5 separate regions of the Homo sapiens genome follow, and all the other regions are linked to region 1. Evidence: fine-mapped expression QTL. A gene starts in region 1. Each other region holds a variant in brackets. All regions are shown on one strand. Distances are between the middles of the regions.

The links. PIP is the estimated chance that this variant, and not a neighbour inherited with it, causes the effect.
Region 2: its variant is fine-mapped to the expression of NT5C2 in blood mononuclear cells (TOPMed, PIP above 0.99).
Region 3: its variant is fine-mapped to the expression of NT5C2 in whole blood (TOPMed, PIP above 0.99).
Region 4: its variant is fine-mapped to the expression of NT5C2 in naive CD4 T cells (Schmiedel 2018, PIP 0.94).
Region 5: its variant is fine-mapped to the expression of NT5C2 in testis (GTEx, PIP above 0.99).

What each region holds. Positions count from the first base shown.
Region 1 is chr10:103,189,026-103,195,501 of GRCh38, forward strand. NT5C2 (5'-nucleotidase, cytosolic II) reads right to left here and starts at 4,247. Exons shown (of 19, transcript NM_001351169.2): 1 at 4,211-4,247. RefSeq lists enhancers at 2,988-3,676, 3,677-4,363 and a silencer at 4,062-4,341.
Region 2 is chr10:102,977,044-102,983,554 of GRCh38, forward strand. The region is part of intron 1 of CNNM2 (cyclin and CBS domain divalent metal cation transport mediator 2); the gene reads left to right. Among named protein-coding and RNA genes, the nearest start is that of CNNM2, 62 kb to the left of the region's middle. The variant A/G (reference allele first, on the strand shown) is at 3,410.
Region 3 is chr10:102,836,073-102,842,414 of GRCh38, forward strand. CYP17A1 (cytochrome P450 family 17 subfamily A member 1) reads right to left here and starts at 1,341. Exons shown (of 8, transcript NM_000102.4): 1 at 993-1,341. The coding sequence starts at 1,289. RefSeq lists a promoter at 1,301-1,580. The variant C/T (reference allele first, on the strand shown) is at 2,023.
Region 4 is chr10:102,874,674-102,881,184 of GRCh38, forward strand. It overlaps AS3MT (arsenite methyltransferase), which reads left to right. Exons shown (of 11, transcript NM_020682.4): 7 at 2,281-2,362; 8 at 3,706-3,837; 9 at 4,176-4,318. It overlaps BORCS7-ASMT (BORCS7-ASMT readthrough (NMD candidate)), which reads left to right. Exons shown (of 15, transcript NR_037644.1): 11 at 2,281-2,362; 12 at 3,706-3,837; 13 at 4,176-4,318. Among named protein-coding and RNA genes, the nearest start is that of AS3MT, 8.5 kb to the left of the region's middle. The variant CA/C (reference allele first, on the strand shown) is at 2,886.
Region 5 is chr10:102,934,968-102,941,478 of GRCh38, forward strand. The region is part of intron 1 of CNNM2 (cyclin and CBS domain divalent metal cation transport mediator 2); the gene reads left to right. Among named protein-coding and RNA genes, the nearest start is that of CNNM2, 20 kb to the left of the region's middle. The variant C/T (reference allele first, on the strand shown) is at 3,057.

The sequences.
Region 1 (6,476 bases):
GAAAGAGCCTGCTTGTACTATGTGCTTGGAAAGAGAAGACTGAAATCTGATGCCTGAAATTTAACGGCTTAAAAAAAAAAATCAGTAAGCTTGCTGAGTATTAGCATGTTTTCATTACAGATGCCCAGTGGGATATATATTTTTATAGGCTCATTAGTTTAATGGAGTTTCTTTAATGTTTTATTTTAGGTTCATCTTAAAATACTGTGAAATATTTCAAACACACAGAAAATAATATAATGATCATTTGATATGTCTACTACCCACCTTCTTTATCAAATTTTAACAATTAAAATTAAGGGCCGGGCGTGGTAGCTCACGCCTGTAATCGCAGCACTTTGGGAGGCCAAGGCGGACGGATCATGAGGTAAAGAGATTGAGACCATCCTGGCCAACATGGTGAAACCCCATCTCTACTAAAAATACAAAAATTAGCTGGGCGTGGTGGCACACGCCTTTAGTCCTAGCTACTCGGTAGGCTGAGGCAGGAGAATCGCTTGAACCCAGGAAGCGGAGGCTGCAGTGAGCCGAGATCGCACCACTGCACTACAGCCTGGCGACAGAGCGAGACTCCATCTCAAAAAAAAAAACGAAAAAAAAAACAAAGATTAAGACTGTCATAATTTTTTTAACTTTTTTCTTTTACTGTTTACTGAATTTTTTTTTTTTGAGATGCTCTGTCGCCCAAGCTGGAGTGCAGTGGCACGATATAGGCTCACTGCAACCTCTGCCTCCCAGGTTCAAGCGATTCTCGTGTCTCAGCCTCCTGAGTAGCTGGGACTACAGGTGGGCGCCATCACGCCCAGCTAATTTTTTATATTTTTAGTAGAGACGGGGTTTCACCATGTTGGCCAGGCTGGTCTCGAACTCCTGACCTCAGGTGATCCACCTGCCTCGACCTCCCAAAGTGCTGGGATTACAGGCGTGAGCCACCGCACCTGGCCGGTTTGCCGCATTAATTTTGTGGCTTTCTTTTTTTTTTTTTTTTTTTTTGAGACAGAGTTTCACTCTTGTCACCCAGGCTGGAGTGCGTGGCGCAATCTCAGCTCACTGCAACCTCCGCCTCCTGGGTTCAAGCGATTCTCCTGCCTCAGCCTCCCAAGTAGCTGGGATTACAGGCATGCGCTACCACGCCTGATTAATTTTTGTATTTTTAGTAGAGATGGGGTTTCACCATGTTGGCCAGGCTGGTCTCAAACTCCTGACCTCAGGTGGTCATTCACTCCGCTCTAATTGCAAAGAATCCATGTAGCATACTTGTAAACTGCTTACCAGAATTTCTCTTTCCAGTTTTATCTCAGACTACTGCTCTACCAAACCCTTTTAGTGAGAACAATCTATTAATCATACCCTCAATACATCCACTTCAGCATCTTCTCCCTACTCTGAAGTGTTACTGTTTTTCCTGATCCCACCAAGCTACATTAATATTCCTTCACTCTGAGCAAAAAAAACTAACATTTATAGAGAACTTAATGTGTGCCAGTATCACTTCAACTGAATTATTCTATTTAATCCACATAACTCTGTAAAATTTGTTCTATTTTTCCCTTCTCAAGGTGAGAGAAACTGAGTGAGCTTGTCTAAGGTTAACTGAGTTCCCCGAGGTTGCATGATGTTAAGTAGCAAGCCAGACTACAAAATCCGGGCCCTTAAATAAATGCAATGTCTCCTGGCTGAAAGTATGACTGCCTTTACTGCTCACGTCACTCAACATATGCCTTGTGATAGTTAGTATTTTGTGTTAAATGTCTAAAAACCTCAAAACATTACAACACTTATTCAACAAAAATTTACTAAGAGCCTGTGTGCCAGGCATTGTTGACTACCGGGGCACATTAGAGAGCATCTACTAATGAAGATTAGATGAATTCTCTAAATACATGGACATCCCAGAAATATTGGTAAGAGCAAAATCCCAAATAATATGTACACAGCAAGTGTACTAGATAAAAACCAGTCTATGTAAGTACTTTAAAAGAGCACAGTCATAACATGACAAAGTTGTGGGTTTTTGTTTTTGGGGATTTGTTGTTATTTACTATTTCACTGAATTAAGCTTTTGGTAAGAGAATTAAGCAACAGGGTCGGACGCAGTGGCTCAAGCCTGTAATCCCAGTACTTGGGAGGCCGAGGCGGGCAGATCACCTGAGGTCAGGAGTTCGAGACCAGCCTGACCAACTTGGAGAAACCCCGTCTCTACAAAATTAGCCAGGCGTGGTGGCGCATGCCTGTAATCCCAGCTACTCGGGAGGCCGAGGCAGGAGAACTGCTTGAACCCGGGAGGTGGAGGTTGCAATGAGCCAAGATCATGCCATTGCACTCCAGCCTGGCCAACAAGAGCAAAGCTCCGTCTCAAAAAAAAAAAAAAAAGAGAGAGAGAGGAAATACTTAAAAAAAAAAACCTGTGTTTTATGTACTCCTCTTTCCCCATAAAACAGGAGAAATAGCCTAGAGAAAGATTAATGAGCACCTCTGTGCCTAACATTCTATTGTAATCTGGCTTTCTTTAGGAAGATGTGATGTCTTCTGGTTAAGGGTGGCAGGTACTATAAGGGAATACTATCTATATAAATCTTCTTACAATTACAAACTTCTGAAAACTTGTAGCTGATGGTAAATTTTCATACAATGGCATCAAACCTTTGAACTGAAAGGAATCTTGCATAACATCTCCTTCAGAACCCCCCCCACTCCACCCCGCGCCCCTCCACCTTATTTTACAGATTTGTTGGTTACTAAATCCTAAAACCTTAATTCTGGGTCAATGAGAGTAATGCAGCTACCTATACTGTTGAAATGTAGTGGTTTACACTGCAATGGAAATGCACTTCAGAAATAAGTCTGTGTATGCTAGTATCAACCCTGCATGTGGAGTTTTTATTTTAATTACTAACCAGCTATGTTTTCTTGAACTTAACCTTTTTTGTTCTTTTTTTTTTTTCCACTCTCAGCTCACACCTATTTTTTTTCTCTTTTCGAACTTCACCCTTTCAGGCCTGGATGTCTTCATCTGGATAAATTCTAACCGTTGTTGAAAAGCCATGTGGTAAATATTTTTGAAACCTAAAGCCTTCTCTACGCAATAACACTAAGTTTTCATGGTAAATGACACAGTTTCAATATTCTCCCTTTCACATTATGGTCAGTAGTTTGCATTCGTTGCTTGAAGAGGCGAAATGAATAGTCTACAGACACTGGGAACCAAGTACAGCTCAATCCTGAAGAACTCATCGGCCCCTGGACGGGCGCGCACACACCCCCCTGTAATGGTGACTAGTCATTTCGGGGCGCTGTACTTCAGAGCACGACCCCCCTCAAACATCAAGGCCCTAAAGGTGAAAGCCCAGGAAAACGTCGATTCGGACAGCAGCCTCTACCTGCTGCTTTTAGAAGCTGTGGCCTGCCGGAGTCAAACCCCCAAAACGTTTTTCTTAAACTAAGGGTTCAGGCCTCAGATCGGCATCTCGCCCTCTCCGATTTCAGGAGCCCCGAAAAAAGGAGAAGAATAGGCCGCCACTGAACGGCTCAGCCCCCTGACCAGGAGCTGTCCGGATGTTTTTTGTGGCGGCTTGCAATTCGCTGTGACCTTTCCAGGAAGTGTTGCACACGGGCGTGTGGCAAACGAGCTGGCCGTTTCTCGCGGTCCTGCTAAAACGCTGTCAACCTGGCGCTCCACCAGAGGCCCCTTGGCTTCTCGGGAGGCGACCGAGGAGCTCTGGGGGCGGGGAGGCTTTTACAAGAAGCGAAAAGACGGCCTCAGGGGTGGCCGGGAACAGCCTGGAATCAGCTGGAGGACGTCAGCAGGACTGAGGAAAGGGCTACCACCAGCGTGAGGAAAGGGGGGAAGAGGGCGGAACGCGGCGAACGGCCGCGCTGGGAGGCTGAGGCGGGGTCCCAGCGAGCCGGCGGCTGGGAAACAATGGCGCGAGCGTGACGTGGGCCGGAGGCGTCGCGGCGGCGCGGAGGAAGGGGCTGCCGTGGGGCGGGGGCCGCACCGAGGGAGTTGGGAGGCGTGCGGCGTCCGCGAGCGCGCTGGCGGGGACTCGGCCTAAGGAGAGGGGCCTTGGGGCCATGGTCCCTGGGGGCCGGGGGCGGGGGCAGGCGGCGGCCGCTACCCTGGGGTCGCGTGTTCGGCCGCGCACCTCCCCACCTAGCTCCCCGTTCGCCCGCTCCTTCCCCGCCCGCCCACGGGGCCCGCCGCACTCACCGGCTCCAGCGCACCGCAACAATCCCAGCGCGCAACTGCCGCAGCCGCCTCAACGCGCGCCCTCCCCGCCCCCGCCGCCCGGCACCGCCCCGCGCCGCCCCTCTGCTCGCGCCCGGCCAGGGACCGGCGCGCTGTTCCGTCCCCCAGCTCCGCCGCAGAGTTCGGCGAAGCCGACGCTCCCTGACCGCGCTGCGTCTGTCTGTCCCGCGGGTCTGGAGATCTTCAAACGATGGAACACCGGCTTTGCCCTTCTGAGGGTCTCCATCCCTTGGCATTCTGCCTGCGCCCCTCAGCCTGGCCCTGGGCTAACCTCTCCACTGTGTCTCATTCAGAAGAAGCTTTTCCTTGGGAGGAGAGGGCATCCTTTTTCCCAGTCACAGAATGTTTTGGTCTAATGGACCTCAAGGCCCCTCATGCGTCCACACCCCCATGGCACCCTCGAATCCCCTTGATGGCTAAAAACACCAGCTTTGAAGTTTGTCAGAACGAGTTCCAGTCCCAGTACCACCACTTACAAACTGTAACCTCGGGCGAGGTACCTGACCTCCTATACCTGGTGCCCACATTTGTAGCACCAGGATAGGGAACAACAGTCCCCACATCAAAGGGTGTTGACGGGATGAAATCACACAATATAGGTGAGGCCCTCAGCAGGATCCTGGCACACAGTAAGCACTCAATAAATGTTCACCCCACCACCAGCAACTCAGCAGGAAGACTCCGCAAAAGCAGCTAGCTATTTCCAGAGGACTGAATTCCTTGGTCCGAGCAGCTCTCACCAGTGAGAAAATGTGTCTAAACTTCCACTCTCAGGGCCGAAATTCGATGCCTTGGAGCCACAGAGAACAAACGTCTAATCTCTCCTGGACCTTTGACTTTTCAGATACTTTACTTCTATCACCTCTGCCCAAGGTCTTCTCATTCCACATCAGTGTCTCCCGTTCCTTCCATTGTTCCTCCTCTGCCCTGGTTTTGAGGGTCTTTATCCCTCTCACGCAAATGGTAGATTTGACTGTGATTTCTTTAGAATACATCACCCAAGACTGAACCAAATGTTTGTGGTATCATCAGAGCAAAGCAGGACTATAGCTTCCTCCTTTTGGGACCTATCGCTTTGCACTCCTGCGATAAAGTTCTTGGCACCCATACTGTTGACTCATATTGGGCTTGCAGTCAACCAAAACCTCCGCGTCTTTTTAATAAGTGCTCCGCCAGAGCACTTCTACCCCTTCTTGTGCTTCTCAGCCAACTTCGCTTCAGGTCAGCTAAGGATAGACCTTGGGCCCCTCACCTTCTAAATTTCTCAGGATATATGGAAAAGAGGAATAGGGGTTGGAAGCTGGCATAACACAATCTTTAAACCAAGTGCATTTGAAAAAAGGCCAGGGTGGCGGGGCGTGGTAGCTCACACCTGTAATCCCATCACTTTGGGAAGCCAAGGCAGGTGGATCATTTGAGGTCAGGAGTTCAAGACCAGCCTGACCAACATGGCGAAACCCCATCTCTACTAAAAATACAAAAATTAGCTGGGCATGGTGGCACGCACCTGTAGTCCCAGCTACTCGGGAGGCTGAGGCAGGAGAATCGCTTGAACCCGGAAGGCGGAGGTTGCAGTGAGCCAAGATCACGCCACTGAACTCCAGCCTGGGCGACAGAGGGAGACTCCATCTCCAAAAAAAAAAAAAAAGAAGAAACGAAAAAAGGCCAGGGTTTGTGTCTAAACACTATGGTACTGAGAGAAAAACAAATATAGAGACACACACAAATGAATGTGATCACAACTGTGAAAAAAAACTGCACACGCAAAAGACTACAGGGAAATATGTAATTGATTATGTTGTTTTCTCTCAGTGATAAGATGGGGTGGTTTCTTCTTTGTACTTTTGTATTAATTTCTTACGGTGTTTGTATTACTTTTATAATCAAGAACTTTGTTTTAAAAAATAAATCAGAAAAAAGAATTTAAAAAATCAGAGAGATGGAATAACTTGAAAAAAACTGAAAACAAAGTTAAAAGATAACAGAATAAGGGGAAAACTATTCGCAATACACAAAAGACAAAGGATTTGTCTATAAAGGACTCTTAACAAATCAATAATAAAAAGAATGAGGCCGGGCGCGGTGGCTCACGCCTGTAATCCCAGCCCTTTGGGAGGCCGAGGCGGGCAGATCACGAGGTCAGGAGATTGAGACCATCCTGGCTAACGTGGTGAAACCCTGTCTCTACTAAAAACACAAAAAATTAGCTGGACGTGGTGGCAGGCGC
Region 2 (6,511 bases), 210 kb before region 1:
CAGTATTATTCTTCCCATAATAAAAAGAGTTTTAGAAAAGACATTAACATCTGTAAAACTGATTGTCCTAAAGAGCTATTCCCATCTGACTGCAGAGTGGAAAGCATCTGATGGCCCAATTGTGACAAGCTCTTATTATTTACTCTCATGGATGTTTGTACAGGTTGCGTATTCCTTGTATGTATGTTTGGGAACAAGCATTTTGGATTTTTTTTTAAAGGTTTTGGTATATTTGCATTATGTTTACTGGCTGAGCATCTGAAATCCAAAAATCCAAAATCTGAAATGCTCCAGTGAACATTTCTTCTGAGCATCATGTCAGTGCTCAAAAAGTTTTGGATTTTGGAGTATTTCAGATTTTGGATTTGGGATACTCAACCTGTATTTCAACTGGGAATAGTTTGTTTCTCAAATTGTAGTTCCCTTATGATTTGAGGACATACTCTAAGGATCCTTAAGTTTCCTTGTGAAAAAATTTTTAAAAATTGTGTTATTGGCTGGGCGCAGTGGCTCATGCCTATAATCCCAGCACTTTGGGAGGCCAAGGTGGGTGGATCACCTGAGGTCAGGAGTTCAAGACCAGCCTGACCAACATAATGAAATTCTGTCTCTACTAAAAATGCAAAAATTAGCCGAGTGTGGTGGCACAAACCTGTAGTCCCAGCTACTGGGGTGGCTGAGGCAGGAGAATCACTTGAACTCTGGAGGCGGAGGTTGCAGTAAGCCAAGAGCGAGACTCTGTCTACTTTTTTTTGTTTTTAAAAGAGGAAGTGAGGAAAGTAGGTGAACAGGAGGAATGATGAATGATGCTGTTAGACAGAATCTCCAGACCATTCCTTGGTCTTTGAGTTCCTCCTGGGACCTATTTTGTTGTTGTTGTCGTCGAGACAGAGTCTTGCTCTGTTGCCCAGGCTGGAGTGCAATGGTGTGATCTCTGCTCACCACAACCTCCACCTCCTGGGTTCAAGCGATTCTCCTGCCTCAGCTTCCCAAGTAGCTGGGATTACAGGCATGCACCACCACGCCTGGCTAACTTTTTGTATTTTTAGTAGAGACAGCGTTTCACCATGTTGGCCAGGCTGGTCTCAAACTCCTGACCTCGTGATCCACCCGCCTCGGCCTCCCAAAGTGCTGGGATGACGGACGTAAGCCACCATGCCTGGACTTTTTTTTTTTTTTTTAAGCTCCACTTAGAGCCATCTCAAACATACGATTTTCAAAACTGGACTCGATTTTTTTTTTCCTCTTCTCCCCGCCCTCTGCAAATCTATACTTGCTGCCATCATCCTTATTTTAATTAATGGCCGTCCTGTCTTTCCAGTTGTCAGGGTAAAATCTGAATGTTATCCTTTATGACTTCGATTCTCTTAACCTTAGGTGTAATCTGTTAGGAAATCTTACTGACTCTAGCTTCAGAATATTTCCAGAATGTGGCCACTCCATACCATCTCTACCTCTACCACCCAAGCCCCTGTCATTTTATAGCATATTATGGCTGTACCATTAGCCTCCTTGCTGGTCTCCTTGCTGTTTTATCTTTGCCTCCTTATAATTATTTTCCACACAGCAGTCAGTGATCTTTCAAACAAAAAACTTTACTGATGTTTATAAGCACACACAAAAATGCACATGTTATGAGTTTGCAGTGAATTTTCGCAAACTGGTCATACCTGTGTGTGACCAGCGCCCAGAGCAAGAAACGGAATGTGACCAGCAACTCATGCTGCCTTCCAGTCCCTGTCCCAAGGGTAATCATCACCTTGACTTGTAGAACATAGGTCAGTTTTGTTGTTTTTGTACTTTATCTATAATAAATGGAATCGTACAATATGTACTGTATTGAGTCTGGCTTCTTTTATGCAGCCTTATGTGTGTGTGAATCATCCATGATGTTTTATGAAATTGTAAATGGTTTCTTCTCATTGCTGTGTGCTATCACATTGTGTTAATATACCACGATTTATTTATCCATTCTTCCATTCTGCTAATGGGCATTCAGATAGTTCCCGGCTTTAGGCTATTTTGAATCATGCTGCTTGGACATTCTAGTACGAGTCTTTTGGCAAATATATGTATGTGTTTATGTTGGGTATATACCTAGGAGTAGGATCTGTGGTTCATGAGGTATGTGTGGGTTCGGGCTTTGTATTACCAAATAATTTTCCAAAATGGTTGTACCCCAGCGAGTGATCTTTTAAAATATTTGTTAAATCCTATTATTTGTTGTTTGAAAGCTTGTCAGTGGTTTATCAACTCACTCAATAATAGCTGAAATTCTTACAGTGGCATATCACTTGTCTTCCTACTTCTCTTTGAACATGCTAAGCACACGTATCTTCAGGCCTTTGTGCTAGCTGCCCCCACTACCTCATTTGTTATACCACCTAGCTATGTTACCTGCTTAAATTCAGATGTCTGCTCACAGGTCACTAACATATGTAAAATAGCCTATTCTTTTCATCTCTGTCCCTTTATTTTGCATTATTTTTCCTCGTACTACTTACTACTGAGCATGTCTATGTTTAATATGTGTAACATTTGTCTCCCCGCCACCCACCAGGGACTTTGTTTTTTTGTTAATTGTTGTATCCATTATCCTCTAGAACAGTAGACATTAATAGTTGCCCAATAAATAGTTGAGTGAGTAAATGAATACATAAAACAAATAGTTGTAATAGACATAATGGATGAAAATAGAATTTGGGGAGAATAAGACAAATGAGGTTAAAAATTGATAAAAATTACTTAATTTTAATTTTTATTAAAACATAGCTGAAAAAGACACAGGGCTTAAAATAGCAACTCCTTATCTCATTCTAATTCCTACTCTCCAAAGTTAACTACTTTGTTCTCTTCCATCTCTTTCTTTTCTTTTTATTTTTTTTTTTGAGACATATTCTTGCTGGATCACCCAGCCTGGAGTGCGGCGGGGTGATCTCGGCTCACTGCAATCTCTGCCTCCTGGGTTCAAGCCATTCTCCTGCCTCAACCTCCCAAGTAGCTGGGATTACAGGCACGTGCCACCAAGCCCAGCTAAGTTTTGTATTTTTTAGTAGAGACAAGTGTTTCGCCATGTTGGCAGGCTGGTCTCAGACGCCATGTTGGCCAGGCTGGTCTCAGAACTCCTGACCTCAAGTGATCTGCCCACCTCGGCCTCCCAGAGTGCTGGGATTACAGGTGTGAGCCACTGCGTCCAGCCTCATCTCTTTCTCATACCATTAAACTTGATATTTCTAAACTTTTAGTTAAATTGCTATCTATTTTATTTCAGTTTTAGTGGGTTTTTTTTTTTTTCATAGCTCACTGCAGCCTCAACTTCCTGGCTTAGGTGATCCTCCCACCTTAGCCTCCTGAGTAGCTGGACTACAGGCGCATACCACTACACCTGGCTAATTTTTGTATCTTTTGT[A/G]GAGACAGGGTCTCGCCATGTTATCCAAGCTGGTCTCGAACTCCTGGGCTCAAGTGATCTGCCCGCCTTGGGCTCCAGAGTGGTGGGATTATAGGTGTGAGGTGCCATGCCCAACCCAGTTTTAGATCTTCTTTGTTGGCTCTTACGCTGAAAGATAAGGACTTTCCTTTTCTGTATTTCCCCTCTCCCCACACCACACATTCATACTTTTCTTCCTCTATCCTGTTGTTATAATTATCAGATTTAAGATGTGCTTTAGATGTCACTTCCTTAGAGAAATGTTCCCTAACTTTTCATCTTAAACCAATGTGTTCAGTGTTTACATTATTATGACTACATAAAGATTGTTCATATGATACAATCAACATATTGCGATCACATGCTTTTTTTTCTTCCCTGGAATCCTTCATAAATCTCTTTTTCTTTGCTTACTTTTCTTCACATCACCAGCTTATCCACATACACTTTGCTGGAATTCTAAAGTAAATACATCAGGTTATGCATCAGTTCTTTAGCTTGTTTCGGAAGCACATCTCCTAGAACTGCCAACCTGTGCTGGCTCTGTACTGCTGTTGCCCTGAATCTTACCTTCACAAATTAAGAATTCCCTTCATCACCAGGTGTGGTGGCTCGCACCTGTAATCCCAGCACTTTGGGAGGCTGAAACAGGTGATCGCTTGAGTCCAGGACTTCAGACCATTCTGGGCAACATGGCATAACCCTATCTCTACAAAAAAAAATTTAAAAATTAGCCAGGTGTGATGGCGTGTGCCTGTGGTTCCAGCTACTTGAGAGGCTGAGATGGGAGGATCACCTGAGTCCGGGAGGTTGAGGCTGCAGTGAGCTGTGATCATGCCAGTGTACTTCAGCTTGGGTGACAGAGCGAGACCAGTCTCAAAAAAAAACCCCAAAACAAATAATTCCCTTCCTCTTTTTTCCTATATTAAATTTTTTACCTCTGGATCCCCACATCAGGATCTTTGTTGGTTTACTCACTTATCTTGGGAGAACATATCCTCCAGTAGTTCCTAGAGAAAAGTGATCCTCCCACCTCAGCCTCCCGAGTAGCTGGGACCCACAGGTGCATGCCACCACACCCGGCTAACTTTGGTATTTTTTTTTTTTAAGTCAAGGTTCGCCATGTTGCCCAGGCTGGTTTTGAACTCCTGAGCTCAAGCGATTTGCCTGCCTTGGCCTCCCAACGTGCTGGGATTATAGGGATACACCACCACGCCTGACCAGGGATGGTAATTTTTTTTTTGATCTTGTGTATCAGTTATCTATTGCCATAATACTATATCTCAGATCACTGAGAGACCTCAGTTGCACATAATAGTAAGTGTTTATTGGCCATATGTCTAGGATAGTTGGCTGGGAGGCTCTGCTGATCTCGAGGGTTGGCCAGCTATTAGCTGATCTAGGATGGCCTTGGTTGGAATGACTAGGGTGACTGCCTCTTCTTCATTTGTTTCATCTTTCTTGGAGGACCAGTGGTCTAGCCAAGGTGTGCTTTTCTCATGGTAACAGTGGAGGGCAAATGGAATGCATAAGTGCTTTTCTTACATTTGAAGTATATCCACTACATATTCAGAAATATCCTATTTTGGAACTATAGTCATTTGGTGACCAGAAAAATTATCCATGCAAATGTGCAGAGAAAAAATTTAAGATATTTAGTATCCTTCAGACGACTAAACAGTCGTCACTTTCTCAAGGAGGTGTTCTTTGCCTTTTTATATTAGGTAAGATTCTCCTTTAAATCTCACTATTAGCACTTGGTTATTGTTATTTCATAATTATCACACTGGCTATATTATTTGATTCATATTGGTCTGTCTCTCTAGACCTTAAGCTCCACTGAAGACAGCAACCCAGTCCAGCATAGGGTTAGCCTGGGGCCTGCAGTAGTGAGTACATAATAAATATTTGTCAGACAAATGAATGAAATGATTAGATCTCAGGAATAGAAGGTATTTTTAGGGTTCTTTTTATTGGCTCTTTTTGTATTTGAAGTGTGTTCCTTCTTCAAGGATTTGGCAGAGAAGAGGAAAAACATAGACCATTACTAATTTGCAGGAGAGAGAAGCTGGCCCAGCTTTGGGCTGTTTGCTCGGCCTAGCTGCATTCCCCTGTGTAATCAAGACTGTAAAGCTTTGATGGGTAGTTAGTTCTTTGTGGCTTTAGGGCTTTCCGATATAAGTAATTGTTTTCATGAGTGTATTAATTTGACTCTGGAACTTGTAAGCAACTGGAAACAAGACTGTTCCTACTTGTTTATGTGAATGTTTGTTGTTCTGAATTGGATGACGATACTCATTGTTATTTCAGAGGAGTGGTTGAAGAATACATTTTTAAACTAATTAGTGATGGAGTTGCAATACAGTTTTGTCATTGGTGCTGCATTCAATAAACTTATATTACAGTCTAAATCTTGGAATGTATGGAAAATTAACATTAATTAAACTAATCTAAGTTACAGAAAGCTGACAAGTGAACAGAACTGAATATTAAAAACTATTCCTTAAACATGAGTTTACTTCATCCACTCTATGGTGTTTAGTTCTACTTAATAATTCCAGCCTTTTCATAATTTGAAAGGAGACCCATATTTTGTGGCTTATTGTTTGTTCAACTTTGATATTGATTTTAATTGTTAGGACAGGAAATTGTGATAGAACTAGAAATTTCCTCCCAGGATTGAAAAAAGACCTTGCTCAGGTGTGATCTAAATATTATATTTCTTATTAATGACAAGTTTTTTTGTGTTTTGCTTTTTTGATAATTAAGGAGTAAAATATATGCTATATATTATATAACTATGGAATTTTAGGTCTTAAATGGACAATATCAAAGCAGCCTAGCTGTCTTTAAAATATTTATATTTTTATATATATTTTATATATATATTTATATATATAAATTTTTTAGGTCGGGCGTGGTGGCTCACACCTGTAATCCCAGCACTTTGGGAGGCCAAGTCGGGCAGATCACAAGGTCAGGAGATTGAGATCATCCTGGCCAACATGGTGAAACCCTGTCTCTACTAAAAATACAAAAATTACTGCAGCCTTGACCTCCCAGGCTCAAGTGATCCTCTCACCT
Region 3 (6,342 bases), 350 kb before region 1:
GAGGAAGCCAGCAGAGGTGGGAGCTAGGTAGTTGGTCAGCAGACCTGGCTGATTGGTCCAAGAAAAAATAAACCAACCCTTGGCTTGATCAAAGCTGAGAGGCTGGCAGGGCACAGTGGCTTACGCCTATAATCCTAGCACTTTGGGAGGCTAAGGTGGGAGGATCACGAGGTCAGGAGATCGAGACCATCCTGGCTAACATGGTGAAACACCATCTCTACTAAAAATACAAAAAATTAGCGGGCATGGTGGCATGCTCCTGTAGTCCCAGGTACTCAGGAGGCTGAGGCAGGAGAATCACTTGAACCCGGGAGGCAGAGGTTGCAGTGAGCTGAGATTGGCCACTGCACTCCAGGCTGGGCGACAGAGAGAGACTCTGTCTCAAAAAAAAAAAAAAAAAAAAAAAATGCTGAGAGGCTGGGGGCCCTGCTGAGTGGGAGGCTCATCAGCAACCCTGAAATGTCATTGTAGAAAACTGCCCCTGTGAGCCTGAGTAGCTGGAAATAGCACCAGGAAAGCAGCAATCCCAGCCTGCAATAGCTAGGCTAATTCTCCCCAGCAGCTTTCATGGAGGACAGTAGTCACTGCCCCCATTTTCCATGAAAAGTAACATGAATCCTGGCTGTATAAGGGGCACTTACTGTGCTGGGTGCTAGGCTAAGTGCTGTACATGCACCTTCTCAGTCCATTAGAGAAGTCTAGGCTCAGAGAGAGGAGTGGAGTGAGGATTCCTTGACCCCTCAGACCACTGTGGTCCTCCCATCCCACCTCCTGGGCAGCCTGGTAGAGGAGACATTCCTTTAATTCTTCCTGCCTAATTTAGAGGCTGGGTGGGGGTCTGAAGGTTCACTCCCTTCACATCATCCCACTAGTCTACTTTGGGAAGAATTACAGGTTGTTGGAGCTGGAAGCCCCATTCTAGGCATGGTCTGAAGACCTGAACAATCCCAGGGGGTGGTGAAGGGGGCAGGGAGGAGATGGGCACCACTTACCATTTGAGGCCGCCCAGAGAAGTCCTTGCCCTTCTTAATAAGCACCTCCTTGGCCAGCTGGTGGTGGCCGACAATCACTGTAGTCTTGGTGCCCATACGAACCGAATAGATGGGGCCATATTTTTTCTGCAGCTTGAAGAAGTTGTTATGCATATGGCCGTGTCTGGGGAGGAATGGCAGGCTGCCCACCAGGGGCAGGGACAGGAGGCTCTTGGGGTACTTGGCACCAGGGCACCTTCTCTTGGGCCAAAACAAATAAGCTAGGGTAAGCAGCAAGAGAGCCACGAGCTCCCACATGGTGGCTGGGTGCCGGCAGGCAAGATAGACAGCAGTGGAGTAGAAGAGCTGTGGCAACTCTAGGGCACAAGGAGGCCTTTTAAAGGGCTACCCTGATCTTCACCTTGACTTTGTGTTATCTCTTGCCTTGTGGAAAGATTCTCCTGGAGCCCAGCCAGGCCTGAGCTCATATCCAGAAGGGAGAGAGGCGGTGGGAGTGAAGGCCTCCTCAAGGGCTGGCTCAACTCCAGGGCAAACCTCCGGAGGAGGAGCTAGGTAAGGGAGGTCAGTTGATCACCCTCTGAGGAGCTCCCCATGCTTGAATGACTCCAGAGTGCGAATGGTATCTGGGCTCAGGAGTCAAGGCTTGGAACTTTCCATGTTGCAAAATCAAAATCACTGGACAGATGACAGATTCAGGAGGGTCACAAGTAGCAGGGACTGTTAAAGGTCTTTTATGCTTCTTTTTTTTTTTTTCAGAGTCTTGCTCCATCACCAGGCTGGTGTGCAGTGGTGTGACTGTCCATGCAGCCCTGGCCCTCCAGCCCATGTGGTTTTGGCAGCGATAAGGGCTGTGGGTTAATGGTCCCCAAAATAAAAATGTACATGTGTATGGGAACGAAAGGGGTGCTAAGCTGTGGGGAGCGGTGGAAGGGAAGGGAGAGATAGGTCAGTACTAGGAATGCCAGAGGTGGGAGGCCGTTTCATAACATTTCTTGTTGATCAAAATGCCATCAACACCTTCTTTGCTCAT[C/T]AGCAGGACTAGCGTACTGGGGGAACCCACCCCCAATATTTCAACGTAGGTTCTTTCTATAAGTGTCAGCCGGCTGAGAAATAAAGAGAGACAGTATAAAGAGAGGAATTTTACAGCTGGGCCGCCGGGGGTGGCATCACATATCGGTAGGACTGTGATACCCACCTGAGCCTCAAACCAGCAAGTTTTTATTAAGGGTTTCAAAAAGGGGAGGGGGTGTAAGAACAGGGAGTAGGTACAAAGATCACATGCTTCAAAGGGCGAAAAGCAGAACTACTAATAAGTGTCTAACAAAGATCACATGCTTCTGAGGGAAAGGACAAAGGGCAAAAGCAGAACTACCGATAAGGGTCCAACAAAGATCACAAGGCAAAGGGCAAAAGCAGAACCACTGATAAGGGTCCAACAAAGATCACAAGGCAAAGGGCAAAAGCAGAACTACAGATGAGGGTCTATGTTCAGCGGTGCACATACTGTCTTGATAAACACCTTAAACAACAGCAAACAGGGTTCGACAGCAGAGAACCGGTCTGACCACAAATTTACCAGGGCGGAGTTTTTCCCCACCCTAGTAAGCCTGAGGGTACTGCAGGAGACCAGGGCGTATCTCAGTCCTTATCTCAACTGCACAAGATAGACATTCCCAGAGCGGCTGTTTATAGACCTCCCCCCAGGAATGCATTCCTTTCCCAGGGTATTAATAATAATACTCCTTGCTAGGAAAAGAATTTAGTGATATCTTCCCTACTTGCATGTCCATTTATAGCCTCTCTCAAGAAGGAAAATATGGCTCTTTCTGCCCGACCCTGCAGGCAGTCAGACCTTATGGTTGTTTTCCCTTGTTCCCTAAAAATTGCTCTTATTCTGTTCTTTTTCAAGGTGCACTAATTTCATATTGTTCAAACACATGTCTTACAATCAATTTGTACAGTTAACACAATTATCACAGTGGTCCTGAAGTGACAAACATCCTCAGCTTACAAAGATAACAGGATTAAGAGATTAAAGTAAAGACAGGCATAAGAAATTATAAAAGTATTATTTGGGAACTGATAAATGTCCATATTAAAATGAAATCTTCACAATTTATGTTCCTCTGCCATGGCTCCAGCCAGTCCCTCCATTCAGGGTCCCTGACTTCCCGCAACATCTCTCCCTTTCTTTTTATATAAATGTGCCGTGGCGATGAAGGCTTGCTCGTTCTCTCGGTTTTGATGCAGGATTCTTTGACTGGTCTGGCACACTAAAAACAAGCCGATTAAACAGAGAAACATGATTCCAAAATTTCCTACAGTGGAGCCCCCAGTAGACTTAATCCAAGTTGTGGAGTTTAGTCCAGAAAGACTTTCTGCCACCTGATCTAACGCCTCAGCTCCAGGCACAATGGATAAATGAGCTTGAGAGGCTTCAAAAATTTGTTTCTTTAATTTAGTTATGTCCAAGGATAAATTATCTTCCCTACCCAGAAGGTGTCCTTTGACCATTTCCCATGATCAGTCTCGTTGTAGGAATATGGTGTGCTATAGAAATCAGAAGTGTTGCAATCGAACTGCATTTGCATGTGATGTTCGAGACTCATTAGCTGGTCCCCAAGCCAAATAACAGACTGTCTTAAATCATTAGCTAATTTTTGATCAATGCCTTGTTGAGGATTCCACATTTGGGTGGAATTGCCTTACCAATCATTAACAAAATTAGCCATTTGAATAGATTGGTGTAATGCCACTCCGGCAGTGGTGGCCAGTGCAGTGACTGTAATTAGGCCCATGATCACAGTGATTAAAGTGAAAACAAATCTCTTGATCTTTTGAGAATTCGTTGTAACACTTCATTAATTAAATGTACTGAGGGGGAAGATTCCCAAGTTCTGGGTAAAGTTACTGGTATCCAGATTCCTTCTCAAGCTCGAACCAACATTACACTTTTCCTGAGTCAAAACGGGAGTTAACACAAGTGGATAAATGACAATTAATGCATTGGACGGTTTGATTGTTCATCCAAATTTTGATATTTCCCACTAACAGCATGTAAGGAGGCTTAACACAACTCTGTATAATAGTCAGGCTGGAGGTAAACAAAGCAGAATGTTTGAATCTACGTTGATACCGAGGGGGAGGAGTGGCGGTGGCAACGCCCAATGTTTGATGCCGTAAAGAAGCAATCCGAGGTGCCCGGGGATTCTGAAGAGGTAGGGGGACATACCTGGGTCCAGAAGAATTATCATAATGCCAATCAGAGTCCCATAAAGGAGGACTGGCATCAAAAAGAGGAAAATGGTCCAAAGGGGATTTATCATGGGTTTCAGAATCACGGATGTGAGGGGTGGTAGTGGGGACAACAGAAAGAAAAGTTTCCCCTTCCCATACTCGCAGTCTGGACATGGCAATAGCCAATTTCCAAAGTTCTGGGTGTTCTGGGCTCAGAATGGGGGATATCATAAGAGGCCTCGGGTGGCAGGGGGTAATGCTCTTATCTTCCCATTTTAAGGGACAGAATGAGCTGAACCTCCTATGCAAAGTAGGATGATGATCCTCGTCCTCCCAATAAGAAATAAAACAAGTAGCCTCCAGGCATTCCCTTCCAGCAGAAGAGCAACTGCTTTTCAAATAGCCCTTTGGTGCCCAGTCTCTTACTAAACCATATGAGTCATTTTTTAATAGTACTGCATGTGAATTAACACAATCTTCCCAAATTAAAGATTTAGATGGGCCCTCAAAAATTTTAGGACATGGTTTTCCTACAGGTTTATATTGAAAGTAGGGGGTATCTCCTATTACTCCCCCTTTCATTTGTCTTAAAGGAGAAAGGGAGAGGCTGGAGACCAAATGTCCCCGTTCCCCTGTGGCTGATCTCTCCAGAAGGTACGCAGCCCAGACTTGAGTTTCTAGATGGATACAACAAGGTGCATGTCCGAGGCACAGAGGAGGGTATTTATAACCGTAGGAACATTAAATGCAGTGCCTTCTTTTCCTGGTTGAGTGGGGCAACGGTCATCTGTAGCTCCAGGCATCCACACACTATCATTAGTATAGATTTCCGCAGGAGCATCCATCCAGGTGAGAGGTTGAATAAGTGGAGGAAAAGGCACATAAGCCCAGCAAGAATAATTTTGTGTAGCAGGTAAATCAATGTGAGGGGAAACTGGTGAGACAGAAAGTATAAGGAAGAGAATTATTAAATAAAACCTATTGTAAGCAAGATCCAGTGCTGAAGGAGGAATAGAAGAATAAGGGGATGTTATTTTCAGGCTAATAGAAATGGTGAGATTTTTAGGTTCGTAAGGAGAAAAAGAAAGGGAATTAGGAGAAGTGGGATTAGTTAGAGGGGTTTCTGTTGCCATTAGGGAGGATTGAACCAGACCCATTTTGATTTGGCGTGCCAGTTTCTGAGGAGTTGGCACAGATCTCACCAGGTATGAGGGTGGTCTCTGACGTGGACGTCTCTTCCCTGTGGTTTTTATTGTCAGTATTCACATGAAGTTTAAGTCTTCTAGTGGGCACCCAGACAGGGGATTGATGATCTCCTGGTGAAACACAAGCATACCCTCTTCCCCATGTTATAATCGTTCCAGGTTTCCAGGTATTGGTCTGGGAATTAAAGGCAAAGAATTAGGTAGTAAATTTAGAGGAATGGTACTACAGAGATTGACCGCCCCTCCCCTTACTCTGGAGCATAGATAAGCGTTGTACTGAGACAGAAGAAGAGGCTGGGACACATCTGGGTTGGCTGTAGGTAAATTTGTTTGTGCTGGGGGCTGCGTTGGGACCGATTGAAGCAGAAAGGCAACATTCGTCTGAGTCTGAGGTGTCCCATTTGAAATTGGGGCCTAGGACTGGCCCCATTTCCCATTTCCCTGGTTCTGTGGCAAGGGATTTCCATCTATATCAGACTTAGAGTGGCAAGTACTTGCCCAATGTTTACCTTTACAACAACAAGGGCAAACAGTAGCAGGAGCATTTGGCTGTGTTTTTTGAGCCGGCTTGGCTGCCTTTAAGTTTTTAACTGTGCAATTTTTTCGAGTATGACCAAGTTGACCACAATTATAGCAGGCTCCAAGAAAAGAATCAGTCGAGCCAGTTTGATTGCCGTCCTTCATGGCCCGTGCCCACAGAATAGCTTTGTGGGCACAGAATAGCTTTGTGTCTGATCCAATGCCTTCATATTTAATATACTCAGGCAACACCTCACGATCAGGTAAATTTTGTTGTTGGACGGAATGCATGGCCATTTTACACTCATGGTTCGCATTCTCAAAAGCTAACATTCGAAGAAGAATACCTTGAGCGTGCTCATCAGAGACAGATTTTTCAACAGCATCTT
Region 4 (6,511 bases), 310 kb before region 1:
GTGAGATAAATTATCTTTGAACATCAGTAAGAGCTGATGGGTTAAGTCTTGTTTGTTCCCCCTTGAACTAAGAGCTCAAACTCTCTTAATTTATCCATTAAATGAATAAGGGGTGGCAAAAGGGGGAAGGGGCAGGAATACCCCGGATATGGATTACTTTCCCTCTTAGGTTGCAAAAGGTAGTAAATCCGAGGTGACAGTTGTCACTGAATGTGTTAAGGTATTTGCTTTCTTGACTGTCTCTCCTATTTGCTGCTGTACATGATCCTAGAAGAGCATCTGTGGAGCTATAGGAATCTTTGCACTGACTACTAATGATTGCTTTGAATATACTCTCTTCTAGCATGTACAGTGTTTCTCAGGGCTTCTGATTTCTTATCTGTCATGATTTCAGATCTTTGGGAAGTTACAGAAGATGGAACTTTTACATTAACTACTTGCTAAAAGGAAAGCTTGCAGGAGCTCCACAGCCTTCATTGTATCATGAGATGTGTATCTTCATGATAGTAGATGAAATATTCAGCCAGGTGCGGTAGCTCACACCTGTAATCCCAGTGCTGTGGGAGGCCGAGGCGGGCAGATCACCTGAGGTCAGGAGTTTGAGACCAGCTTGGCCAACATGGAGAAACTCTGTCTCTACTAAAAATACAAAAATTAGCTGGGTGTGGTGGTGCGTGCCTGTAATCCCAGCTCCTCGGGAGGCTGAGGTAGGAGAATAGCTTGAACCCAGAAGTCAGAGGTTGCAGTGAGCCAGGATCGTGCCACTGCACTCCAGCCTGGGAGACAGAGCGAGACTCCATCTCAAAAAAAAAAAAAAAAAAAAAAGATTCTAGCTGGGTGGGTGGTACATGCCTGTACTCCCAGCTACTTGGATGCTGAGGCAAGAGGATTGCTTGAGCTCTGGAGTTTGTGTGCAGCTTGGGCAATATAGTGTGATCACTGCCTCTAAAAAAATGTTTTTTTTTTTGAGATGGAGTCTCACTCTGCTGTCCAGGCTGTAGTGCAGTGGCAGGATTTCATCTCACTGCAACCTCCGCCTCCTGGGTTCAAACAATTCTTTTGCCTCAGCCTCCCTAGTAGCTGGGACTACAGGCGTGTGCCACCATGCCCAGCTAATTTTTGTACTTTTAGTAGAGACAAGATTTCACCATATTGGTCAGGCTGATCTTGAACTCCTGATCTCATGATCTGCCTCAGCCTCCCAAAGTGCTGGGATTACAGGCATGAGCCGCTGTGCCTGGCCAAAATTTTTTTTTAAATTGACAACAGATTTTTGAGATTTTTGGTTTACAAAGCTGTCATAGAACTCAAATACAAATATCTATATAGAAATGATTTAATGATTTAGTGATGTCTTTGTTAGTATGTCATTTTACACGCCAGTTCACTATCTCCACCAAAAATGTACTTATAAAAGGTAGAAACACTATTATAGAATCTAGATCTCCAGGTTTCCAGGTTTTTGAAATTAGCTAAATAAAATGTTAAGTTCCTGATCACTCATTTGCCTTACATTTTAAGGATAATATTTTAAAGATAAAATGTGTTGTTATAAAAGTAAATAACAACATTACAAAAAGTTATATTTTTTAATAGAAATGGGGTCTTGCTGTCACCCAGGCTGGAATGCAGTGTCACTATCTGTACCCCTCTAACTCCTGAGTTAGAGGGGTCCAGATAGTGACACTCACTGTACCCTCTAACTCCTGGGCTCAAACAATCCTCTTGAGTAGCTAGGACTCCAGGCACATGCCACCATGCCCAGCTAGTTTTTAAATTTCTATATGGGAGAGAGGGTCTTGCTGTGTTGCCAAGGCTAGTCTCAAACTGCTCTCCTCCAGCAAGCCTCCCACTTCGGCCTCCTGAGTCATTGGGATTAGAGGCCTGAGCCATCATACCTGGCAAAGTTATACTATTCTTAAGAGATAAAAGATTATGAATACTGATGATATCCTCTGTTCTACAATGACCTGGGGCTGCTTTTGGTTCAGATTGGCTAAAAATTTAAATGTAAGTAACCTGAAAATCTTTATTTAGGAGACAGACACTCTTAGAATGTGATTTTATTACCTGTTGGATAAGCCACTGGGAGGAAAAAAAACCTTGGCACTTGACTATTGATTGTAACTAAAGAGGCAGCTGCTATTTGTTCACAAAGGGTCAGCTTAAACATTGCTATTGATTTTTAAATTTGATTTTGTTCCCCTATTCCTTTCTTTGTTATGTGGGGTCAATGTAATCATTAATCATCTTGTTTGGACTAATATGCCTCTGTTTCAGCATGGTGGGGAGTTATATTTCAGTGACGTCTATACGAGCCTTGAACTGCCAGAAGAAATCAGGACACACAAAGTTTTATGGGGTAGGTGATTTTGTTTAGTTTAGTATTAAGGCAGATGGTTGTACATGTGCAGAACTCCTTTCTGCTAATAGCCAGGATGAGGCTATATGAGATCACATGGGGTTAGGCCATGAGGCCAAGGTTCCATTCTTCCTCTGCCATTCAAAAGTGATAGGGCTTTGGATAGTTTAATTCATCTCTTTGAGTTATCGTTTTCCAAATTGTAAAATGTAAATAATAATACAATCTGCCTTATAGGGCTGTTATGAAGATTAAATGGGATAAAGAATGGGAAAAATACTTTGAAAACTCTAGTGTGGAAATGAGGACAATTGTTCCCAAGCTGGTGTCCTCTTAGTCCCCTTATGTTCTCATCATTATTGTGTTCTTTATTCCTTTATTATCATTTTAATAGTCTGGAAGTTGAGATAAATGCATGCTTTTCATCAGTCTATGAAATCAAAAGTTCTTATTCTTAAAATAATATTAACTTTATTCTTACTATGTAATAATAAATAGGTACCGTTAACAAGTTGGAAAGTGC[CA/C]AAAAAAAAAAAAAAAAAGAAAAAATTACTAAGCTGGACACAGTGGCACACACCTGTAACCCCAGATATTTGGGAGGCTGAGTCAGGAGGATTGCTTGAGCCTAGGAGTTCAGGTACAGCCTGGGTGTCATAGTAAAACCCTATCTCTTAAAAAAATTACTTATAATCATATAACCCAGTGATAACTTCTTTTTTTTTTTTTTTTTTTTTTGAGATGGAGTCTCGCTCTGTCACCCAGGCTAGAGTGCAGTGGCGCAATCTTGGCTCACTGCAACCTCCACTTCCCGGGTTCAAGTGATTCTCCTGCCTCAGCCTCCCAAGTAGCTGGGATTACAGGTGCATGCCACCATGCCCAGCTAATTTTTGTATTTTTAGTAGAGATGGGGTTTCACTGTGTTGGCCAGGCTGGTCTCCAACACCTGACCTCATGATCTGCCCACCTCGGCCTCCCAAAGTGCTGGGATTACAGGCATGAGCCACCGCGCTCGGCCTATGATTTATTTTTTATACTACTTTATTCACATAACAGTGCTTTTCAGAATGTGGCGTACTGCATACATGAATATTATGCTTGCAGCTGAGTAGAACCAATCCACCAGTGAGTGTCCTGAAGAATGGTTCCTAGAGACCATCAGCTAGCACACCCAGTCTTAACCATGGCTTTCTAGACCTTGGAGGGATGCTCAAGTTAGCTTCTACTGCTAGGATCTATGTTTTAACTAATACCATGTCCTAATTAATTATATAGAAGAATAGTTCCCTTAATACTGTATTAAGTGTTGGCTGGTCTGTGGTTTTTTGTTGTTGTTTGTTTTTTAGGTGAGTGTCTGGGTGGTGCTTTATACTGGAAGGAACTTGCTGTCCTTGCTCAAAAAATTGGGTTCTGCCCTCCACGTTTGGTCACTGCCAATCTCATTACAATTCAAAACAAGGAACTGGAAAGAGTTATCGGTAAGATATGACAGACAGCAGGGACTATTATAACTACAGCTTGAATGATTGAAATGTGGTGATTAGTAAGTAACTTCTGAAGGAGTCTCATTGAGGGATACTTTCTGTTATCTGGAAATAGCTATCTTGCCTCCTGTACAATGGTAACCCCCCAAAAATTTTGATATTTAATAAAGCACTTTGAAGTCATTCAGTAAATAGAGTGAAGTGCTCAGAAAGATAACTGATGACATGCAAGGAAGAAAATCATCTTTATAACGTGTTTGCTCCTTGTCTGCTGAGCAAGGCAACAACTGGGGGAGTGCTGGAGATGAACCGTGAATAAATTCTATTTTTAGGTGACTGTCGTTTTGTTTCTGCAACATTTCGCCTCTTCAAACACTCTAAGACAGGACCAACCAAGAGATGCCAAGTTATTTACAATGGAGGAATTACAGGACATGAAAAAGAACTAATGTTTGATGCCAATTTTACATTTAAGGTAAATAAAACAATTTCCATGACTTCTGGTATTCTTTCTGCTCTTGCCCTTGCTCCAGCTATCTTTTCTTGACTTTGCATTGCCTCCCATTTTTCTGGTGTTGGTTTGTTTGTGTGTGTGTTTAAATGTATGTGTGTGTTTCAAGTGGAGTAAAAAAGCATTTTTTCCCCAATACTTATTTATTTATTGACAGGGTCTCGCTCTGTCACCCAGGCTGGAGTGCAGTAGCACAATCATAGTTCACTGCAGCCTGACCTCCTGGGCTCAAGCGATCCTCCCACCTCAGGCTTCTGAGTAGCTAGGACTACAGACTCATCACCACACCTGGCTAATATTTGTATTTTTTGTAGAGATGGGGTTTTGCCATGTTGCCCAGACTGGTCTTGAACTCCTGGGCTCAAGTGATGTGCCCACCTCAGCCTCCCAAAGTGCTGGGATTACAGGCGTGAACCACCGTGCCCAGCCCTCAATATTTATTATAAAAATGTTTTTGGCCAGGTGCGGTGGCTCACACCTGTAATCCTAGCACTTTGGGAGGCTGAGGCAGGCAGATTACCTGAGGTCAGGAGTTCGAGACCAGCCTGACGAACATGGCGAAAACCCATCTCTACTAATAAAAATACAAAAATTAGCCGGGCGTGGTGGTGGGTGCCTGTAATCCCAACTACTCTGGAGGCTGAGGCAGGAGAATTGCATGAACCCGGGAGGTGGAGGTTGAGGTGAGCTGAGATCATGCCATTGCACTCCAGCCTGGGCAACAGAGTGAGACTCCATCTCAAAAAAAAAAAAAAAAAAAGAAGTTTTTGAATACAGAAAAGTTAATAGTACAATGAATACCCACATAGGCATTACCTATATTTCAGCAATTGAGAACATTTTTCCATGTTTGTGTGTTTATATGTGTATATATATATATATATTTATTTGCTGAGCCATTGAAAATAAGTTGCAGATATTATGACATTTTACCCTTAAATATTTCAGCATGCGTCCCATAGGAATGTAATATCCCTCTGCATAATCACAATACCATTACACACCTAAGAAAACTTTTTACAAGAAGCCTCATTCAGACATTGGATTAATAGGGCTATAGAGAAGTAGGATGGAAAAGAGTAGGAGTATGTACAATAGTATTTCAATTGTTTAATTGTGTCAAGGAATTAAGAAATTTTAATGTTGGATGATGGCACTAATTGGCATTTTTACTGCCCTGTGCATAGTAAGATTTGTTTTCTCAAAATGGAAAAGTTCAGGCTTTGGAATCAGATACCTGGGTTCAAATTCTGGCTCTATTATTATTGTTTTTTATTTTTTTTTCTGAATGTCACTAGACAAACTTTTATTGAAGCATAAATTGTGGTACAGAAATACATTTTAACTGATTTAAGTCCAACACCAGTGAAAGGAGAGATTATGGCACCAAAACTTTCCCTTTCCTATCATACCATGATTTAGATTATGATGCAATCTACATTTCTCTTTTCTAGGCTTTGTCCCATACAAATTTGGGCAGTTTTTCAACATTAGAATTTCAACATTAGAATTCTTAATTCTATTAGGAAAAAAAGCAACAAAAAAACCAGACCTCAAGTCAACAAATCTATTGGATATTGTTTATGAACGAAGTCCACGTTAAGCATTGGTCCTCAAAACAGAGCTCCTCAAAATATTAGGTGCTGTGCTCATTACAGAATCAAACTGATCACACTGATTGAAAACTTCCTCAATGAAATTTTCAATCAACAACATGCTTCAAATAAAAGTCAAACAGTGTTCCAACCACTTGACTTCAAACCAAGTAGATTTTAGGTTTAGAAACACTAAAAAAAGGTGTTTCATTTATAAATACAGAAGGAACAAAAACATCACTGCATCAATCCAGAAATTATCAAAATATTTAGAGGACAAGAAATATAAAATTTAGTCAACTTTGCTGCTTTCTCAGTTCCTTAAAATCCCAGAGTATCTGCAAATATAGCTAAAAAGTACCAACTCTTGAAAGCCTATATTACTAGTCATTTCCCATTGAGTATTTTGGAATTTTATTTATGTTCTACTTATTTATTCATGTATTCTGCTTTATGATGTTTATCTGAATAATCTGGACAAATTCTCATTCTGGGCAGTCATTCGTTTCATCCTATGAATGCCATGGTGAGGGAAACAGTGTAGTTAGAGGAACAGATGAAG
Region 5 (6,511 bases), 250 kb before region 1:
GACCAAGATGGTGAAACCCCGACTCTACCAAAAATACAAAAATTAGCTGGGCATGGTGGCGGGCACCTGTAATCCCAGCTACTTGGGAGGCTAAGGCAGGAGAATTGCTTGAACCCAGGAGGTGGAGGTTGCAGTGAGCCGAGACCGCGCCATTGCATTCCAGCCTGGGCGACAGAGCGAGACTCCATCTCAAAAAAAAAAAAAAAAAAAAAAAAGACTTTGGGCCAGACATGGTGGCCTGTAATCCTAGCGCTAACTTTGGGAGGTGGGAGGATTGCTTGAGTCCAGGAATTCAAGACCAGCCTAGACAATATTGGGAGACCCTGCCTCTACAGAAAATAAAAAGAAAATGGGTGTGGTGGTGCACACCTGTGGTCTTAGCTACTTGGGGGGTTGAGGTGGGAGGATCACTTGAGCCAGGAGGTCAAGGCTACAGTGAGCTGTGATCACACCTCTGCAATCCAGTCTGAGCAACAGAGGAGACCTCATCTCAAAAAAAACTTTTGTAGTATCTTTCTTCTCCACATCAATTTATCAAGGGTCTTCTTTGGTTTTATTTGCAAAGACTAGAAGAAACCCTGACTTCTGTTACTCTGCATTTCTTACTGCTATGAGCAGTATGGTCCTTTAAAAAAAAATTTTTTTTTTTTTTTTTTTGAGACAGGGTCTTGCTCTATTGCCCAGGATGGAGTGCAGTGACACAATCACAGCTCACTGCAGCCCTGGTTGACTAGCAGCGCTCAAGTGATCCTCCCGCCTCAGCCTGCCAAATAGCTGTGATCACAGGCACACTCCACTGCACCTGGCTTTTTTTTTTTTTTTTTTTTTTTTGTAGAAGGCAAAGTGTCGCTATGTTGCCCAGGCTGGTCTTTAACTCCTGGCCTCAAGCAGTCCTTCCACCTTGGACTCCTAAAGTGTTGGGATTACGATATGAAATGCCACGCCCGGCCTAGCACTATAATCCTTGAGGTTTTTGGGTTCCAGGTGACCAGAAGAGACAAAATGAAACTCTATGGTGTTTTTTTTTGTTTGTTTTTTTGGTTTTTTTTTTGGTGCTGTGGGGGTAGGGGGCTGGTAATCTGAGAGGGAGAATGTTTTCCCATGCTAGCAAAGACAGATTGAGGGCATCATCTGATCTTTATGGGAGTGTGCAAAGCCTCAGTTTTTCCATTTGCCCATCTGCAATCATAGAAACAATGTGCTGACTCAACTCGGAGCCTCTGCGGAGTGGCGTTTGGGTTTAGACAGTCCTCAGAATCATTCAAGAGATGGAAATATTTGAGCAGGTCTTCAGAGGTAAAATTAAAACTAAAAACAACTAGAACAAGATAGCATGCTTTCTTATCTCTTTCAAGATTATTTCCTTTAGTCACTAGTGTACCTCCTTGATGTAAGGTTTGGCAGGAATAATTTCATCTCTGTAGAGTTGATAACTAAGCAGAGAAAAAACCCTACCTTTTAGTCATTGCTTTTCATCTTGCTATCATCAGTCTGATCCTTGAGGGTTTGGGGTTCCAGGTAAACAGAAGAGACAAAATGAAACTCTTTGCTTTTTTTTTTTTTTTTGGTGCAATGGGGGTGGGGGAGATTGGGTGTGGAGAGGGGTGAGATTCTGCTGGAAACAAGTCAATTGGCTAAAATACTCTTTTAATCATATTTTGTGGACCATCTTCTGCTTAGTTTTGCTCTTTTATGTTTTTATTTGCTTGTTCATATATACATACATTAACCTGCAACAACTAGAAGAACATTTACCAAAATATTAACCAACAGTGACTATCTTTTGATGTGGTGGGTTTAGGGGAGGAAGTATGTTTTTCTGTGTTGCTCCAAGTTTTTCTGTTTAAAGCATGTATTTTGTAATGTTTGGGGGAAACCAAATCCATCAAAATAAAGTGCAAGTTTTGTAACCTGAACCACTCATTGAGGTACAGAATTGAAATGTATTTAGATGAAACTCACAGGTATTTTTTCTTGGAGAATGTGGAATATTTTATCTATAGTGCAGCTGTGCTGTCATTTATGCCATTTTTTCCTCCTCATTGTGATTCTTACTGTTTGGGGTGAAAGATGAGTAGTATTTTAAAGCCCGTAATGTGTGTGAGTACACACGTGACATCTTAGTAAGATTCATTTTGTGTGAGAAATAAGGGAATTTAGGCTTTTGGGTTACATTTGTTTTCAAAACATGTTAATAGGTGACAAAAATCCAGTTTGTTTAGATTTGTATGTAGTCTGCCTGGAATGAAACTTTTTTATACTTACATGATAGCCCTGATTAAATAAAAGTTTGGTGAAAGCCAGCAGGGTGGCATGTGCCCCATGATCCCAGCTACTCTTGAGGCTGAGGTAGGAAGATAGCAAGTTCAAGCCCAGCCTGGGCAAAATAGCGAGACCCCATCTCAAAAAAAAAAAAATGTTTTGTTAAGTAGTTGAGTTCCAACTAGATCTGTACTTTTAACATAAAGCTATAATCCCAAGATACCTCTTATTTGGGGACATGATGGTTTTGGAAACTGGTGCTTCCTTTTGTCTAAATAAATAATCACTGTAAATCTAGTCTTGATTATTAAAAGGAGACAAAAAGATAAAAGGAGTGTTCTGAACCACCTGTGCTTGAAGCTCAGTTAATAGTTTCCAGACTATTAAGCCTACAAAATGTATATCTTACACATTTTGCTAAAATAAAAAGACCTTTTAGCTTTGATCAAGACAAGATCAAATATTTGGTTTGATTATACTCCTAAAACGTACATATTCTCAGACAGATAAACAGATGTGATTTTCTTTCGTTCTTTTTCTGGATGTATACAGAAACCTTTTTTTTTTCTTTTTTTGGTAGAGACAGGCTCTCCCTATGTTGCCCAGGCTGGTCTCAAACTATTGGGCTCAAACAATCCTCCCACCTTGGCTTCCCAAAGTGTTGGGAGTATAGGCATGAGCCACTGCACCCAACCCCAGAAACGTTTAATTTAACTATAGGATAAGTTAGCTATCATTTAGGTGCCTTTACTAAAGTCTGTTAAAATGACATAAAATAATGACAATGTGTGGGG[C/T]GCAGTGACTCACGCCTATAATCCAAGCACTTTGGGAGGCCCAGTTGGGAGGATGGCTTGAGCCCAGGAGTTTGAGACCAGCCTGGGCAACATAGTGAGACCTCATCTCTACAAAAAAATTAAAAAATTAGGCCGGGTGCGGTGGCACGTACCTGTAATCCCAGCACTCTGGGAGGCCGAGGCAGGTGGATTGCTCAAGATCAGGAGTTCGAGACCAGCCTGGCCAACATGGTGAAACCCCATCTCTTCTAAAAAAAAAAAAATACAAAAATTAGCTGGGCATGGTGGTGGGCACCTGTAATCCCAGCTACTCGAGAGGCTGAGGCAGGGGAATTGCTTGAACCCAGGAGGCGGCGCTTGCAGTGAGCCAAGATTGTGCCACTGCACTCCAGCCTGGGTGACAGAGCAACGCTCTGTCTCAAAAAATGGAAAAAAAAAAAGAAAAAATTAGCTGAGCATGGTGGCACACACCTGTCATGCTGGCTACTCAGGAGGCTGAAGTAGGGGGATTGCTTGAGCCTGGGAAGTAGAGGCTGCAGTTAGATGGGATTGCGCCACTGCACTCCTGCCTGGGTGACAGAGTGAGACCCTGTCTCAAAAAAAAAAAAAAAAAAAAAAAAAGACAACGCCTCTACTCCTTTAGCCAACTTTCTAAAAAAATTAAACATTTTAGGGAGAGAAATCGATGTTTCCTTTACTTACAGATGGCATTGCTCTTAAATAGTCCTATGCCTATTAGACAGTTAAATTTAATTTTTACTGAGTTCCTTGATATTAAAAATATACCAGCGTTTTGACCTGATTACTGTAGAGTGAAGATCATCAGTTGACACAGAACTTCCAGCCAGCATTTTAATGCTTTCCTCTGAAATATGAATGGACAGCGATAGATCTCTGAATATTTGAGGAGAGCCTCTAATAGGAGTTATGGAGACTAAAATAAACAAGCAGACAAAGGCCCTTAGTTGATTTAAGCTGATTTATCTCACATTACCTAAATATCCAAAAAGTCAGCAGTTATTACTTTATCTGTGACCTCCCAAAGCCACTTACCAAACCAGGTATGAGTAGCAAATTCGAAGATTTGTTGCCTTTTTCAGACATGGTGTAGGTAGGATCTTTCCTGTATTCATTCAACCTGCCTAGTTGTTTGAGGATCCCAGCCAGGTTGAAGGTTGTAAATATTTCCTTAAGGCTTACTTAGCTTCAGTGCAGGATCAGAGGCTAATTTCTGGCAGAGTTCTATGTCTTAGGGGATCATTAGCTGTCTATTTTTCCTTTCTCTTTTTACTGCAAGATTTCTTCAAGAATAGCTAGTTACTTCCTTTTCCTTGCCATCTTTAATCCTCTACAATCTTGTTTCAAACAGTTACAACCCATGACTTCTTTTATTGCCACATCTACATCTTGGTTGTTACCTTTCCTCTCTTGCTTGGCCCCTTTACTGTTTTTAGCTGTAGGTGAGGACCACTCTTCAGGTTGGCTCCTGCTGTTTCTCTGACTGCTTCCTTTTTCTTTTTAGGTTCTTGATTTTCCCTTCCATTTCTAATTGAGCAGTCCCCAAGATTTTGTCCTTATGTCTCCTTCCATGTTCTTTTTCCATCTTGAGAAGACTTTCTTTGACTCATCTTTAATCCATAAGCATGTATTTAGCATCATAATAAAGAACTGGCGGCCAGGCGCAGTGGCTCACGCCTGTAATCCCAGCACTTTGGTATGGACGAATCACCTGAGGTCAGGAGTTCAAGATCAGCATGACCAACATGGTGAAACACCGTCTCTACTAAAAATACAAAAATCAGCTGGGCGTGGCGCACACCTGTAATCCCAGCTACTCGGGAGGCTGAGGCAGGAGAATCGCTTGAATCCGGGAGGTGGAGGCTGCAGTGATCTGAGATCGCGCCACTGCACTCCAGCCTGGGCGACAGGGTGAGTCTCCATCTCAAAAAACAAACAAACAACAACAACAACAACAACAAAAAAAAAACCGCCATGTAGGAGACGGCCAAAGAGGAATTAGACAGATTTCCTGCTCTCAGGTAACTTGAAGTACATATGAATTTATACTCTTTTCCATTCTGTATCTTCTTTTTTAAAAATTTTTATTTTTAGTAGATGTGGGGTTTTACCATGTTGGCCAGGCTGGTCTCAAACTCCTGACCTCAAGTGATCTGCCTGCCTTGGCCTTCCAAGGTGTTGGGATTACAGGTGTGAGCCACTGCGCCTGGCCTCCCCTCTGTATATTGTTATCAAACATAATTGATCTGTTTTGAAAACGCATCTTTTACTTTTTGTTTTCTCTCCATTCCCACTGCTACAGTGCCAGCCCTTAGCCCCTCTTATTTGTGCTTATTATGTTTTGGGTGCTCCAGAAATACATTTTGTTTTATTTTATTTTATTTATTTATTTTTTGAGATGGAGTCTCACTCTGTCACCCAGGCTGGAGTGCACTGGCGCAATCTCGGCTCACTGCAAGCTCCGCCTCCCGGGTTCACACCATTCTCCTGTCTCAGCCTCCCAAGTAGCTGGGACTACAGGTGCCTGCCACCATGCCTGGCTAATTTTTTGTATTTTTAGTAGAGACAGGGTTTCACCGTGTTAGCCAGGATGGTCTTGATCTCCTGACCTCGTGATCCGCCCTCCTTGGCCTCCTAAAGTGCTGGGATTACAGGTGTGAGCCACCGCGCCTGGTCCTTATTTTATTATTATTTTTTTGAGATGGAGTCTCGTTCTGTCACCCAGGCTGGAGTGCAGTGGCACTATCTTGGCTCACTGAAACCTCCACCTCCAGGGTTCAAGTGATTTTCCTGCCTCAGCCTCCCAGGTAGTTGGGATTACAGGTGCCTGCCATCACGCCTGGCCAAATTTTTATATTTTTAGTAGAGATGGGGTTTCACACTATGTTGTCCAGGCTGGTCACAAACTCCTGACCTCAAGTGATCCACCTGCCTTGGCCTCCCAAAGGGTTGGGATTACATATGAATTTGTACTCTTTTCCATTCTGTATCTGGGTGATACAGAATGTGTGAGCCATTGCGCCCAGCCTAGAAATACATTTTAAATTAATGCATGAATCAGTCTATTTTGATTATCATTAAACTTCCAAGATGGCTTTCTTTATTGTCTGTTTCATCAAGCATACCTCTGCCAGGCTGATCTTCCTTAAACATAACTTTCATCTTACCAGTTTGTTAAAAACCTCTTATAATTACAGTAATATGATATTGTCTTTATTTTATTTTTTATTTTATAAAAAATTACGTAGTAGAGATGGGGTCTCGCTATGTTGCCCAGGCTGGTCTTAAACAACTGGGCTCAAGTGATCTGCCCGCCTTGGCCTACCAAAGTGCTGGGATTACAGGCGTGAGCCACTGTGCCCAGTTGATATTGTCTTTTAACAAGTCAAAATAGCCAGCATAAAAAAAAATGATCATATACAACTGGCAAGGTCCCA